2 separate regions of the Homo sapiens genome follow, and region 2 is linked to region 1. A link means that fine-mapping ties the variant in region 1 to the expression of a gene that starts in the linked region. Tissue or cell type: subcutaneous fat. Region 1 holds a variant in brackets; the other region holds the start of a gene. All regions are shown on one strand. Distances are between the middles of the regions.

Evidence for each region. PIP is the estimated chance that this variant, and not a neighbour inherited with it, causes the effect.
Region 2: it holds the start of UVSSA, and the variant in region 1 is fine-mapped to the expression of UVSSA in subcutaneous fat (TwinsUK, PIP 0.95).

What each region holds. Positions count from the first base shown.
Region 1 is chr4:1,319,851-1,328,027 of GRCh38, reverse strand. MAEA (macrophage erythroblast attacher, E3 ubiquitin ligase) reads right to left here. Exons shown (of 9, transcript NM_001017405.3): 4 at 5,525-5,647; 5 at 325-401. Among named protein-coding and RNA genes, the nearest start is that of UVSSA, 23 kb to the left of the region's middle. RefSeq lists enhancers at 955-2,154, 3,329-4,528. The variant C/T (reference allele first, on the strand shown) is at 4,569.
Region 2 is chr4:1,342,415-1,350,561 of GRCh38, reverse strand. UVSSA (UV stimulated scaffold protein A) reads right to left here and starts at 3,354. Exons shown (of 14, transcript NM_020894.4): 1 at 2,802-3,354; 2 at 2,373-2,472; 3 at 708-1,038. The coding sequence starts at 2,470. RefSeq lists enhancers at 2,666-2,745, 4,591-5,113, 5,114-5,637 and silencers at 2,976-3,415, 3,656-3,985, 4,206-4,295.

The sequences.
Region 1 (8,177 bases):
AAGGGGGTGCCGGGAGCCTGATCCACGTGTTTTACGTGGACGGTCGGGACCTCAAAGCTGGTTCCCCTGGCAGCCACGGGGGTCTGGATGCCCACCTGGGGCCACACCTTGGCGGGGGCCCTGCCAGGCTCCAGGCCTCACTCCCCAAGTCCCATTCAGGAACAGTGGGAGAAGCAGCCACCTGAGCAGGCAGGGGTCAGACTCAAGACCCAGGGGACGACCCAGGGGACGTCCCAGGACCCAGACCACGACAGGGAGGGCTGGCAGGGGCCGCAGCCGAACATCCTGCCCTCCCTCGAGGAGACGCACGTCCGCAATGCCTACCTCACAGCGTCCAGTCTCTTATTCTGCCGGATGAGTTCAATGAACTCCTGGATTCTGAGGCTGAACTCCAGGCAGCTCTGAGGGCAAAGACAAGACGAGGGCTTAGACAGCACATCCCACAGAGCCCAGGTGCCCGGGTGCCGCACCCGCATGTCCACCAGCAGACCCCACAACCAAAGCTCTGAACCCCTCTCTCACAGGCACGGGGAAGGCAGGGCTGAGGCTGAAGCTGCCACTTTAACCTGCAGCAGACTTTCCAGGGAACACTGGGTTCTGAATGTGAGTCCCGCCCCCTGCTCCTGCAGCTGCGGTGGGGCGTGCAGCCGCCCAGCATTTCAACCCGAAGGCCAGGGCGCTCAGGGCGCTTCCAGGAGCACAGCTGGGAGGGCAGAGCAGCAGGTGCAGCTGCTGGAGCAAAGGCACCAACCCCTCTGCAAGGACAAAGCAGCTTCCTGGGTCCCGCCCTGAGGCCACTGCTTCCTCTACACTCCCACCGGGCCTCTGGACCCAACTATCCCGAATGTAGACTGGGTGCTGGCTTGAACCCGGGGCTGTTCTGGGAGAACGTGGGCAAGTCCTGTCCCGAGGCGCTGATGCCCCGGGTGGGGAGGAGACAGGGACCACATGTGGGGCTGCTGGCTGGTGCCTCACAGGGGCATGAGGCAGAGAAGCAAGCTTGGAGCAGGCAGGACCCAGGTCGGCAGGGCGGGGAGGAGACAGGGACCACATGTGGGGTTGCTGGCTGGTGCCTCACAGGGGCATGAGGCAGAGAAGCAAGCTTGCAGCAGGCAGGACCCAGGTCGGTAGGGCGGGGAGCGCCTGCACCGAGGTTATGGACGGGGGACCGCACAGACACCTGGCGAGAACATGGCGGGCAGAAGCCGGGGCCGGTGCCGAGGCCCCAGGCGGGTGGCACATGGAATGGAGGCCTGGCCCAGGGGACACTGAGGTCCTAGGTGGCTGTGAGGCCAAGGGGCGGCTCGCGTGAAGGGAGGGCGCTTCCAGGATGTGTAGAAGACGGAGAGAGGCCGAGTTGGGGCTGCTGGCTGAAGGCACTATGCCTGAGGCAGGGGCGGGGGTGGGGGAAGCTCCTGCAGGACCAAGTCCCACATGTGTCTGCCTATGAGCCTCTCACGTGCACCTAAGGGAAGCCCAACCCTCAATCTGAAATCTCAGCAACCTCAGTCCAACGTGGGCCGAGACTTGTGGCTGGGGTGGGGGCAGCGGCAACATTGACCGCAGTCATCCAAGATGAGACGCGGATTCTACGGAAGTGACATGTCCGTCTAAACCGTAAGATCTTCCGTGTGGTTTCAGGACATTCTCAGGGCTTCACCCCGGAAACAGGATATAGGCGTGGGCACCACGGAGCGAGTCTTGGGCTGGGGCCGCGTGTCACTCTGGGTTCACATGGCCTGGCTCTCAGGACGGCATGAACAGAAACTCCACGTGGCAGATGAATCCACCCCGGACCACTGCATTTAAGTTGAAGCTCATCACTTCCGCTTCCCAGAGCTTTCCCCACTGAGCTTTCTGAGGAGCCACCTGTGCTCCAGCCCACCCCGCCTGCCAGCCTTGCTGCCCCGACACGCATAGCACCCACAGCAGTGGCTCCGCGTGGGTGTGGGGAGGACTGGGCTGCCCAGACCCCCGGGGGCCACCTGCCTTCCAGGGGCTCAGAGGGGCTCAGGTCCCTGCCCTGCTGCCTCTGCCCTGTACCCTCAGCCCCTCATCACCCTGTGTCCCTAGACAGACGGGTCAACAGGCTGGACGCAGAACTCACAGGCTTGCTCCAAGCTGGGGCAGGAGGACTGTCTCTGACCCCAGCAGTGGCACAGGCTCTGGGTGGGGAGTGCCAGGCTTGGTACAAATCAGCCGAGAGGCACAAAGTCATCCCAGGGTCCCGAGTCCCCACCCCACTAATCAGCAGGCAGACTTCGGTCAGCACTCCGCTCCCTTCAGAGCCAGCCTGGCAGGAGAGGAAGGGAAGGGCCAGCGGGAAGAGATAGAGGCTCCCCACCAGGGCCCCACCTGCCTCCCAGGGGCTGCCTGATGGCTGCCGTGTCTAGAGCAGGCGAGTGCCGGGGCTCTGTCTAAAGGCAGGACGCAGCTGCCGAGGGGGTGCTCTAGAAGAGCAGGACTCTGGGCCCACTCTAGGTTACCGCTTCACACAATAGACACCTCAAACCTGCTTTTCAATAACACCTTTTGCTCTAGTAGGTTACTTTCAATTGGTCCACTAATATGTAAGTGTGTCTATGTCGTGAAACTTAGGTATTCAGACCCAAATCTAAAACACCGAGTCTACACTGTCCCATACGGCGTGGAGCGCCAACAAGGCTGTGCCCGCCCTGCGACAGGCGCCCACACTGATGGCTCCGTGTGGCTTTCGCACAGACGTGCAGCAAACAAATCACTGCTTCAGGGGCCTTCAGGGCCACTCACCCACCCATGCCTGTGAAATCCATCTCTCAGCCAGGTCAAACTTGGGTCTCAAGTTTCTTTTCCCATCTAGGTTCTCACAGCTGGTCCCAGGGACCCGTTAGAGCACAGTCTGGCTCCTCCTTGCCTCCCCACACACCCCCTGGCGTGCGTGCACATGTGAGCAGACTGCACAGACAGCCGTGTACCCCAACTGGCTCGGCCGCATCTCGTACCGGGCATGTTTTCGTGTCATTTGGAGTCTTCAGGGCGCATTTCTGGACAGCATCTAAATATGGATTCAGGCCCCGTCCAGTCTCGACTTCATCCAACACCAGGCACGCTCATCCAATCTCAACTCATCCAACACCAGGCACGCTCATCCAATCTCAACTCATCCAACACCAGGCACGCTCATCCAATCTCAACTCATCCAACACCAGGCACGCTCATCCACCAGGCATCCAATCTCAAATCATCCAACACCAATCTCAACTTTATCCAACACCAGACACACTCATCCACCAGGCATCCAATCTCAACTTCATCCAACACCAGACACACTCATCCACCAGGCATCCAATCTCAACTTCATCCAACACCAGACACACTCATCCACCAGGCATCCAATCTCAACTCATCCAACACCAGGCACGCTCATCCAATCTCAACTCATCCAACACCAGGCACACTCATCCAACCTCAACTCATCCAACACCAGGCACGCTCATCCAATCTCAACTCATCCAACACCAGGCACGCTCATCCACCAAGCATCCAATCTCAACTTTATCCAACACCAGGCACGGTCATCCACCAGGCATCCAATCTCAACTTCATCCAACACCAATCTCAACTTCATCCAACACCAGACACACTCATCCACCAGGCATCCAACCTCAACTTCATCCAACACCAGACACACTCGTCCACCAGGCATCCAATCTCAACTTCATCCAAACCAATCTCAACTTCATCCAACACCAGACACACTCATCCACCAGGCATCCAATCTCAACTCATCCAACACCAGACACGCTCATCCACCAGGCATCCAATCTCAACTCATCCAACGCCAGGCACACTCATTGACCAGGCATCCAATCTCAACTTCATCCAACACCAGACATACTCATCCACCAGGCATCCAATCTCAACTTCATCCAATACCAGGCACACTCATCCACCAGGCATCCAATCTCAACTCCATCCAACACCAGACACACTGATCCACCAGGCATCCAATCTCAACTTCATCCAACACCAAGCACGCTCATCCAATCTCAACTCATCCAACACAAGGCATGCTCACCCAATCTCAACTTATCCAACACCAGGCACGCTCATCCACCAGGCATCCAATCTCAACTTCATCCAACACCAGGCACACTCGTCCCCCAGGCATGCATTCAGGGCCCCGAGTCCTGGCCCTGCCTGTCCCCACAGCAGCTTCAGACAGGTCGTGTGCTCGTGGCAAGCCTCCAACACCCTCCAGCAACACTGTCCGGCAGGTAATTAGGGCTTGCAGGAATATCCTGGCAGCACCAAGAACCTATCTTCCCTCTGACATCCACAGGAAACAGCCCTGGCAGAGTTCCCACTGTGAGGTGTGTGCCGGCTCTCTGGGAGGGAGTGTGGGGCTGGCACTGTGTAGTGGGGCCGCAGGTTACATACCAATTCTGGCTTTCCTTTTAGGGTTTCCATACCAAGGTCCAAACTCTCTTTAGGGGAGCTACTAGCCGCTCTACTTTTTCGTCCCGTCTTTGCTTCGTGCTTGTTTTGGCGGCCCTGAGTGGCAGTGTGTCACTCCTGGCTGGTAACTG[C/T]GTGCACCCTGCCAAACTCAGCCAGGGTGAGGTTAAAGCAGCGCTCAGTTTAGAAGACAGAAAAGTTTTGCTAATGGAGGCAGAAGTGTTAACATAAGTTAAAACATTTCTGCAAGCCCCTAGGGTGACAATGCCTTTTAATAAGCAGGTTTAAATTTTGTCCTTTAGGAGTCCATTTCTTAAGCTTCTTTTGGTCTCTACAAAAGTCGGTACTCGGCCGGGCACGGTGGCTCACGCCTGTAATCCCAGCACTTTGGGAGGTTGAGGCAGGTGGATCACAAGGTCAGGAGATCAAGACCATCCTGGCCAACGTGGTGAAATCCCATGTCTACTAAAAATACAAAAATTAGCCGGGCATGGTGGCGCATGCCTATAATCCCAGCTACTCAGGAGGCCAAGGCAAGAGAATCGCTTGAACACCGGAGGCAAGTGAGCCAAGATCGTGCCACTGCACTCCACCCTGGCGACAAAGCGAGACTCCGTCTCAAAAAAAAAAAAAAAAAAAAAAAAAAAAAAGTGGGTATTCATTAACAATATCACAGCCCAGAGCTCTGCAGCCTCGCAGATGGAGAATGACTTCCCAACCAGCTTTTCTGTGTCTATGACTGAGCACAGGGAGCCCATGGAGTACCCCCATGGAGCAGGACTGACCTGTCTCCAGGCTCTAAGCCCAGCAGCCCCAACACTCTGTGTGCACATGGTCAGCCTCCTGTAACCCACTCCTTCTGAGCCTCATGCCAGCTGTACACAAACTGTAATGCCAAATGAGGTGCACTTTTCCAGATTTTAGCCTAAAAGTGTAACACAGCCACCAAAAAAACTCCCAAACCCAACCCCCACCTTACAAACCAAAACCAAACTACTGTGAACCACCAGGCAAGGGGGTGCTGGCTCCAGGGCAGGTGGCGCAGCCTCGGCCCCGACCCACTCCCACCCCAACCTGGGAGTCCGTGCACCTTCATCTTCCGGAGCCGGGACTTGTTGTCATGGCACCAGGCCAGGCAGGTGGCCGTCTCACGCCTCTCCAGGGACTCCTCCACCTCTTTGGCCGTCAGGAACATCTCAATATTCACTAGGTCCTTAGAGGAAGGAAGCAGCACCTGATCAGAATGTGCTGGCTCAAGGCCCCCATGCCACCCTCCCACACCCCAGCCTCCATGAGGCAGGCCCAGCACCGGCCACCACTCGAGATGCATCTCCAGTCCACACTGTGGGTCTGCACTCGTGGACTACTCAGGGCCGCTCTGAGATCCTAGGAACAGAACAGCCCCCAAGGACCAAAAGGTCGGACGCTCACGTAGACAGCAGCCATAGCCGGGCAAGGGAGCCAGGCTGGCCCCACCTGTCCATGGAGAGGAGCTGCTGAGACACACATGCAGGCAGGGCCAGGCCACATGCCAGGCGGCCCTGTCTCCACTCCCCACAGCCCCCCAGCACATCTACAGGCCCTCCCTGGGCAGCCCCCTCATTTCAAAATCAACAGTAAGCAAATAATAACATGCTAAATAATACATAAACACATTATGGCTAATATCGCGGTAGTTACAACCAATGATTTATATGAAAGCAAAGAAAAAAAAAAAAAACAACAAAAAAAACAGAGTAACCCAGGCTTAGCATCAAGTCTCCGCTAGTGGCCGGGCACAGGGGGTGGGTGCTCAGTGCCTAGCAGTGGAACCCATGGTCTCTGGCAGGGGCAGGACAGCAGCTGGTACGGGACTCCACCAGGCACGGCAAGGCTTGGGGCAAGCGCTCAGGTGGTCCTCAGCAGCAATGACTCCCGACCTTCCCCAGTGGGACCAAGGACGGCACCTCCGCCTGCACATAGCCCAGGACCCAACGGCCCAGGATGAGGCCACAGTTCACCACTTGGGTCCCACAGCCCCACGTCTGGACCACCGGCCTCACAGATGCGCTGTTTTCTTTGATGATTACTCTTTTCTGAAACCCCTCATAACGTTGTTTTCTTGCACCTTTTCTTTCATGATTTCTTGTTTCTGAAACCCCTTCATAGCATTTTCTTGCATGTTTGCTTTGATGATTTCTCTTTTCTGAAACCCCTCACAGTGTTGTTTCCTTGCATCTTTTCTTTAACGGTTTCTCGTTTCTGAAACCCCTTCATAGCGTTTTCTTGCATGTTTGCTTTGATGATATCTTTTTTAAAGCCCCTTCATAGCGTTTTCTTGCACGTTTGCTTTGATGATTTCTTTTCTGAAGCCCCTTCATAGCGTTTTCTTGCACATTTGCTTTGATGATTTCTTTTCTGAAGCCCCTTCATAGCGTTTTCTTGCATGTTGATTATTCTTTTCTGAAGCCCCTTCAAAGCATTTTCTTGCATGTGTGCTTTTGTTTGTTTTTTTGAGACGGAGTCTCGCTCTGCCGCCCAGGCTGGAGTGCAGTGGCGCAATCTCCACTCACTGCAAGCTCCGCCTCCTGGGTTCACACCATTCTCCTGCCTTGGCCTCCCGGGTAGCTGGGACTACAGGCGCCTGCCACCACGCCCGGCTAAATTTTTGTATTTTTAGTAGAGACAGGGTTTCACCGTGTTAGCCAGGATGGTCTCGATCTCCTGAACTCGTGATCTGCCCACCTTGGCCTCCCAGAGTGCTGGGATTACAGGCGTGAGCCACCGTGCCCGGCCTCTTGCATGTTTGCTTTGATGATTTCTTTTCTGAAGCCCCTTCATAGCGTTTTCTTGCATGTTCGCTTTGATGATTTCTTTTCTGAAGCCCCTTCATAGCGTCTTCTTGCATGTTCATGTTGATGATTTCTTTTCTGAAACCCCTTCATAGTGTCTTCTTGCACGTTTGCTTTGATTATTTCTTTTCTGATGCCCCTCCATAGCGTTTTCTTGCACGTTTGCTTTGATTTCTTTTCTGAAGCCCCTTCATAGCATTTTCTTGCAGGTTTGCTTTGATGATTTCTTTTCTGAAGCCCCTTCATAGCGTTTTCTTGCATGTTTGCTTTGATGATTTCTTTTCTGAAGCCCCTTCATAGCGTTTTCTTGCATATTTGCTTTGATAATTTCTTTCTAAAGCCCCTTCACAGCGTTTTCCTGCATGTTGATGATTCTTTTCTGAAGCCCCTTCATAGCATTTTCTTGCATGTTTGCTTTGATGATTTCTTTTCTGAAGCCCCTTCATAGCATTTTCTTGCACGTTTGCTTTGATTTCTTTTCTGAAGCCCCGTCATAGAGTTTTCTTGCACGTTTGCTTTGATTTCTTTTCTGAAGCCCCTTCATAGTGTTTTCTTGCACGTTTGTTCTGATGATTTCTGAAGCCCCTTCATAGTGTTTTCTTGCATGTTTGCTTTGATGATTCTTTTCTGAAGCCCCTTCATAGCGTTTTCTTGCATGTTTGCTTTGATGATTTCTTTTCTGAAGCCCCTTCATAGCGTTTCCTTGCATGTTTGCTTTGATGATTTCTTTTCTGGAGCCCCTTCATAGCGTTTTCTTGCATGTTTGCTTTGATGATTCTTTTCTGAAGCCCCTTCATAGCGTTTTCTTGAATGTTTGCTTTGATGATTCTTTTCTGAAGCCCCTTCATAGCGTTTTCTTGCATGTTTGCTTTGATGATTCTTTTCTGGAGCCCCTTCATAGTGTTTTCTTGC
Region 2 (8,147 bases), 23 kb before region 1:
GGTGACGAGACTTCTCACCCCAAGTACCTCACAGGTAGGAGAGCAGTGTGCTTGTTCCATTAGCAGGCAGAGGCTGCTGACTGGACCCAGGAGTCTGAAACAAACCCTGAGCATGAACCCTGGGAGACAGGGCACTCCAAGGGCACACAGGGAAGCCAGCAGGGCTGGGTCATTGCACTGGGGAGGACTGAGCCTTCGTGGCAGGTGGGGTAAGGGGCACGGTAGGGTCTGGGCAATGAGGCTGGGTTCAGGCCACAGTGGCAGATCCTGGTGGGTTTCATCATGCCAGGCACCAGCCCGAGCCCATAGTAGGGTGCGGGTGGAGCCTTAAAGTGCAAGGTTGGGACAGGTCCCAGAGTCCAGGGGCCACTGTCACAGAAAACGTTGCATCTGAAAAGTTGGATTTGGCTTTTCCTTTGTCTCCTACACGCACATAAAAAATGACACATGCAGCCTCAGCTCCACCCACACATAAAGCTTATGCTCTTCCTCTCAGAGCTGCGCCGCCCCTCTCAGGGAGGCCGTGACCCTAGATGCTGCCCTCTTTCCCACACCCCACAGATGGTCTGGCAGCCTGGGTGTTCAGGCAAGGCCAAGCAGGCCCCTGCTGTGCTAGGTTCAACAGGAGGCGCATCTTCACCCTGGTATCGTCTGCCCTCCTCACGTCAGGTAACCAGTCTCTGAAAAAATGGGCCAGGCCCACCTACCTTTTTGTTGTGTCTTAAGAAGTGGTAGCCCAAGGCAAGCTTCTTGTAGGCCTCCCCAAACTTCTCATTCCACCCTTCCACGGCCCGGGTGGTCGCCTGCCTCAGCCTCTGTGCCGCCTCCCTGGGGGGCGGCAGAGGCTGTGCGGGGTCTGTGCCCAGCGTGAGCTCCAGGAACTCCTGGAAGTTGGAAACAACCAGCATCCGGAACTGGTGAGACCTGACGAAGAGTTCCTCCACAATCTGGAAGGCTGAGAGACGGATCTCGGCGTGCTCCTGGGTCAGCTGTGCTATCAGCAGGCGGTAGGCGCGGCTCAGCTGCTCCTCTGAAGACCTGGGGATGCGAGCTGGCCTGACCCAACTGCCCCACACGCAGAGGATGGGCGGGGGGAGACTCTCCGTGCATGGATGCCGCACGCACGTGTGGCAGGGACCACCACTGCCTTCCCATCTTCATTCTCCCCTTTTCTAGAGCAGGGTCTGCAAACTACTGCCCAAGGGCCACATCTACCTCCCCAGCCCCTGCCTGTTTCTGTGTGGCCCACAAGCCAAGAATGTCAATACAAACAAAAAATACTTGGTGAAATGTGAAAATCATATACACTTCAAATGTCGGTGTTCATTCACAAAGTGTCATTGGAACGTCGCCCATCTATCCACCTACATCATCTACAGCTGTGTTCACAACTGAGGCATTACAGCAAAGCCTGAAACACAAACCATCTGGCTCTTTAAACACACGTTACCTAGCGCAACACACACCGCCCGGCACAAACGCCCACCGCCCGGCACAAACGCCAACCGCCCGGCACAAACACACACCGCCTGGCACAAACCGCACACCGCCCGGCACAACGCACACCGCCCGGCACAAACACACACCGCCTGGCACAACGCACACCGCCCAGCACGCACACTGTTTCAGCTGGGTGCCTCCTGCTGCAGGAAGGAAGGAAGGCCTAGAGCTCGGGACATCTCCCAGCCCCTCCTGAATGCTCCTATTCCCAGCTCCTGACCCCACATAAACCATTGCGAATTCGATTTCCTGGCGCAGGCCACAAAACCTGACCTGAAATTTTCTATCAAAATGTCAACACTCCATCACTGTATAAACAATCTATAAACTGCCATTTTACAAACACAGGATACAGAATAATCAGTGTCCTCGACTTATGCTCCACCCTCCGAGGGGAAGTTTTGCTTCCCCCATGAATCTCTGGCTGCCTGAGGGTGACGGCAGAGATCCCCTCCGGCGTTTTCCTTGGAGGAAGTGAACAGAGGTGGACATACCCTAAAGGCGATGGACCAACTCGCCCATCAGCAAGCTCTATTCTTTCCCTTCGAAAAGTCCAGCAGCAAAGAAAAAGATGCACGTTTCTCTCTGAATCACATTTGTGCACTCAAGAACTCCTACAGGATGTGCTCCAGACCACACAAATGGGAATGAAGAGAAGCACCAACCACAGAGCAGTGGGGTCCCCAACGCCACACGCCCCGACCCCAGAACATGACCACCCGTCAGAGCCGGGTACTGCAGGGCCCCGAGAAAATGTCCTGGGTGTGTCCCTCGGGTGGTTCTCTCCCAGGTGGGGGCAGGAGGGCAGGGCCCTGTGTGTGTCCTGGGCTCAGTGGGCCAGTCAGTTACTGTTACTGAACCCTAAGACATACTTGCAAATTTTCTTCAGTTCCTTCATTTTCTCAGGATTTAGTCGGGGTTCTCCTGAAGTTGTGAGCTCTTCTACCAACTTCGAAAGTTTCTGATCCATATCTAGAAATAAGTAAGGCAGAGATGCTATATCACCATCTGTATTTTATAGCTCTCGGTGTTATTAACGTGTTTACTGGGTTCCACTATAAACCGAAAGCTCCGGGAGGACCCTGAGGCTGGGGTCCATCTGTGGGTGCCTCTCTGGGAAATATGTGTGTCCAGCAAGGCCTTTACGGCGGTGATTGCAGTTTTAAAAGTGAACCTTAAACTCGGGACCTCTACAATCCCGTGTGTGGGACGCTGCATTGAGGGTCGTGCGTTAAAGGAACCAGTGGCGCTGTCCGAATCAGCTTTTCCCCAACGTGACTGTTGCTGTTTCCCTTATTCACTCAGATTCCGCAGGGCAGCCTCCAGCAAGGCTGCAGAGGCCAAGAGGAGCCAAGAAATTCTGAGACCAATGAAAAGTCGCGTCCGGAGAGCAGGGGCGGCCCTAACGGAGGCAGCCTGCCCGGATACCCAGGGCCGAGCACCGCGGCGTGCCTGGTGGGATGAGGCGAGGGCCTGCCGCACCGCCAGGGAAAGGCCGAAGGACCCGGAAGGAAGCGCCAGGCGAGGCCGGGGCGGAGGCTGGGAAGCTGCGCCCTACTCGGGGAAAGAAGGGGCCCGGCAGGGCCACGCGAGGCTTGGACCGCGGGGTCGCTCTCGCACAGCGGCTGCACCGGGCGGGCGCGCCGGCTTCGACGGTGCTCGGGGGGCTGCGGCCTGTCACTCGGCCCAGGGCCCGCCCTCCGGCCCCGCCGCCGGCGCTCTCGGGCACACGGGACACGCCCTGGCCGCAGGTCTCTGCCCGGCGCCCGCAGAGCCCCGGGGACCGAACCGGCGCGACCCCCGCCCGGCAGCGTAACCACAGCCCCACCTACCGCTGACGCGGCCGCTCGCCTCGCCCCGCCCCTTCCGGCGGGGGGACCGCCCCTCTTGTCAGGTGCCCAAGACCTCTACCGCCATTGGCTGGCCCTGGGCCGGACGCATCAGGACCTGGGGTCACCACAGCGACGACTGCACCTACCGCTCGACGCGGCCTTTCTCGCCGTTGCCCCACCCTTTCCGGTCAAGGCCCCGCCCCCTAGCACGTGCCCTGAGCTCGACAGCCAATGGCTCACCCCAGCCCAGGAGGCGCAGGCGCAAAGACGCGGCCGAGGTCTGCGCGGTGACGTAGGCGCGCTCCCGGCGAGGGCGAGGCAGGCTGCCGGGGGTGGGGAGGGGGACGCACGAGAAAAAAGAGGCGGGAGGGCGCAGAAAGTCCTTAAAGGGGCCGCATGTACGGGCGCCGGGGGCGGGGCCGGCCGGGAAACTGAGGCCGAAAGGAAGTTCCGGTCTGGGCCTCAACGCCACGCCCGCCCGCGGGCTCGCAGCCAGGTCCCTTCACCTGCAGAGGGCCGGTGAGGACCGCCCAGACGGGCGGGCGCGGGCCCCCGCCCCCGAGCTCGCCCCGCGCAGGGCGCCCTGAACCCCGCGGCGCCTCCCCGCTCCGGCCTCGGGAAGGGAATCCCTGGGCGGGCTTGGGGGTCTTCGGGGCCCACCTCGGCGCCAGACGCACAGCAGGTACCCCTGGGCCCGGGCTGGCCCTGGGCGGAATGAGAAGCAGAGGCGCCGTCCGTCCTGCCGCCGAAGTCCGCAGCCTCGAACGCAGGGGAGTGCGAGGTCGGCTGCGGACGGACGGACCTGGAGACCGCGCTTGGGAAACCGTGGCTTCGGAGGAGCGTGGTGTGGACCCCACTCGCGGGGCGCCCGGCACAGGCCACGCAGAGCAGACGCCCGACTGGGCTCCCGGGGCTGGGTGCAGGGCGGGGGCCGCCGGCGGCGGGCCGGGGTTTCTTTTTCGGGGGGATGGGCGTGCCCTTGCATTACGGTGGTGGTAGCTCACAACTCTGTTAATCGTGTTTTTACAGGGTGGGTTTCAGGATGTGTGAGTTATATCTCAGTAAAGCAATTATTTTAAAAAGGAAAAGAAGAGGGACTCCCTGCGCCGCCCCTCTCTGCAGCACCAGCTTCTGTCCCTGGGCGTCAGTGGCTCCCAGCTCCTAGCTTGCAGCCAGCCCCGAGCCGCTCCTCCGCCTCACCCCTTCCTCACCCTGCCTCTTGCTTCACTGAGCAAGCTGCAGCCAGACCCTCCCTCAGCGCCCCTTGCCCTGTGCATCCAATCCCCGGCCTGTGGCTTCCTCCAAGGCACCCATCCAGCAGTTTCCCTCTGTCTTCTACAGCGTGGTTTTTTTTGTTGTTACTAGTTCTCATTAGTATAAAAGGGTGCCGTTTCTCCCATACTAACAAAACCCTCTCTTTATCCAACTTTTCTTACCAATTGCTAAGTCCAGTCTCCTTTACACTGCCCCGGGGTGTCCTCTCAGCCCTCAGGCTCAACAGCACAGCCAAGCTGCCCGTCCACTGCCCTCTGTATCCGCTGATGGCCCTGCAGCCTTTTTTTTTTTTTTTTTTTTTTTTTTTTTTGAGACAAAGTCTCGCTTTGTCACCCAGGCTGGAGTGCAGTGGCACGATCGCGGTTCACTGCAGCCTCCGCCTCCCGGGTTCAAACGATTCTCCTGCCTCAGCCTCCCGAGTAGCTGGGATGACAGTCACCCGCCACCACGCCCAGCTCATTTTTGAATTTTTAGTAGAGACGGGGTTTCACCATGTTGGTCAGGCTGGTCTCGAACTCCTGACTTCAGGTGATCCGCCCGCCTCGGCCTCCCAAAGTGCTGGGATTACAGGCGTGAGCCACCGTGCCTGGGCCACCGTGCCTGGGCCTGCCCTGCATCCTTCTGTTCGCTTGGACCAATTATCTGACTCACTTGGGCTTCTCTCTTCCTCTCACTCCATGCCCATTTGGTTTGCAAATCCTGACAGCCCTACCTTCAGAACACATCCAGATCTGAGCACGTCCCACTGCCTCATTGCCACTGCCAATTCCTGGCCACCCCTGCAGCAGGTCACTGCCGTCACCTTGTCTTTCCCTTGCACCCTGGTACCCCTAGACCATCATGCAGCAACCAGAGGGACCTTTGAAAGTCTAAGGTCGGATCACAGGATTCCTCTACACAAAATCCTCCGACGGCTCCCATCCCAGGGCAAGGCAAAACCTGTCGTGGCCTGTGTTTGCTGCCCCCTGCATCCCACCGGTTGACTTCTCCAGCCTGCTCTTGCTGCCACACGGCCTCTGGGGAGCGGATCCCTCTGCCGGGAAGCTTCTGCCAGTATCCACAGAGTTCCTTGCCTCCTTCCAGCCACTGCTCATGTCTCACCCTGAGCAAATACTTCTGCACCCGCTCACCTCCCTGGCTCAACACCCCCCATCCGTTTTCTAAACCTGCCGTGCTTGTTCCCAGGGCACTTCTGGCCCTTGTGTCACACAGACTTACTGTCTTACTAGGTGATTCGCTTTTTTCTCTTCACTCCTAAAACATACAGTCCCTGAAAATAGGGATCTTTGTTTCATGAAGCCAGACAAAAAGCAGGTGCTCAATATTTGTTGAATGCTGGATAAGATTAGAAAGCCAAGATAAATCATGATGAGAGTTAGACGATATTCTTGTTTGTTTTTGTTTGAGACAGAGTCTTGCTCTGTCGCCCAGGCTGGAGTGCAGTGGTGTGATCTCGGCTCACTGCAACCTCTGCCTCCCAGGTTCAAATGATTCTCGTGTCTTGGCCTCCCAAATAGCTGGGATTACAGGCGCCCACCACCACGCCCAGCTAATTTTTGTATTTTTAGTAGAAACAGGGTTTCACCATATTGGCCAGGCTGGTCTCGAACTCCTGGCCTCAAGTGATCTGCCCACCTCAGCCTCCGAAAGTGTTGGGATTACAGGCATGAGCCACTGCACCAAGCCAAGAATTAGAAGATACTTCTAAAAGATATTTTAAAAGAACCAATGGAAACTTAGAGATGATAAAACCCAAGCAGGATAAACAAAGAAAACCACCCAAGGCACATCTTAAATTGCAGAAAACTAGTGACAAATCTTAGAAGCAGTCAGATTAAACAAGGCGTATGACATACAGGCACAAAGAAGCCAAGGATTTCTTGTCCCCTCCTCCCCCTCCACCCAAAAAAAAAAGCCAGAAGAAAATGGAACATCTTTAAGGTGGTAAAAGAAAAAATACTGTCAATCTAGAACTGTATATGCAGCAATATAGCCTTTAAAAACTGAGGTGATGTAAAAGCATTTTCAGACAAAAGCTGCATGAATTATGACCAGCAGATTTGCAGTCCAGGAACTGTTATAGGATGCTCTTCAGATGAAAGGAAAATGATACCAGAGGCAAACTTTATAAAAGGAATGAAAAGTTCTATAAATACTTTTTTTTTTTGAGACGGAGTTTCACTCTTGTCACCCAGGCTGGAGTGCAATGGTGCGATCTTGGCTCACTGCAACCTCTGCCCTCTGGGTTCAAGCGATTTTCCTGCCTCAGCCTCCCGAGTAGCTGGGATTACAGGCACGTGCCACCACGCCTGGCTAATTTGTGTATTTTTAGTGGAGACAGGGTTTCACCATGTTGGTCAGGCTGGTCTCGAATTCCTGACCTCATGATCTGCCTCCTGGAGGTGGCAATACCTTAGATGCGAGAAGGATCTAAATCTGCAGGAAGATATACCATATTCATGGGTTGAGGACTCAATATTGTTATGATTTATAAGTCCTTGTTATGGACTGAATTGTGGCCCCTGCCTACCAAATTCCTATGTCGAAGCCCTAACCTCCAATGTGACTTTATTTGGAGATGAGGCCTTTAAAGAGGGGAACGTTAAATGAGATTCTAGGGATAGAGCCCTCATCTGATAGGACTGATGTCCTCGTAAGATGAAGAGACTCCTGAGATGTGTGTGCACAGGAGGAAGTCCACCACGAGAGGTACACAGTGAGAAGGGGGCCGTCTGCAAGCCGGGAAGAGAGGCCTCACCGGGAGCCAACCCTGCCAGCATCTCCTCTAGAACCGTGAAGAAATAAATGTCCATTGTTTAAACCCGCTAGTCCGTGGTCTTCTGTTACGGCAGCCGAGCAAACTAATACCGTCCCCAAATAGGGATGATAGGTTCACTGCAGTTCCAGTGACAATCCCAGCACACTTTTTACAGTGTTCAGCAGACACTGATGAGTTGATTTTACAACGTGCGTGGAAATGCAACAGACCTAGGACCACCAAGACCATTCTGAAAAAGCAGAACTGGAGGACTCATCATACCCCCTGGTTTCAAGATTTGCCTTAAAACGGCAATAGTTAAGATAATGTGGTGTTAGGACAAGGATAGACCTAAAGGCCAGTCTAACAGAAGGTAGTGTCCAGAAATAAACCCCAACTTAACACAGCCAGGAATTTTTTCTAATGGAGCCAACGTTATTCAACGGGATAAGAAAGGTCTTTTTAACAAATGGTGTTAGAACAATAGAGTAAACATATGGGATGGTGGGGAATCATCCTCAGGCTCTTCCTCACACAACACACACAAGTTAAGAGATGTGTTACAGACTTAAAAGCCGAAACTGAATCTTCTGGAAGATATATTATTGCAACCCTGGAATAGGCAGATTTTTTTTTTAGAACATAGAAAAGCATTAGCCACAAAAGAAAGAATAAATTGAACTGCACTAAAACTTAAAAAATCTGCTGATCAAATGACAGTCAATAAAGTATAAATACACATATCCCTCAAAGGATTTGTATGTGAGGAATCCCTACAAATC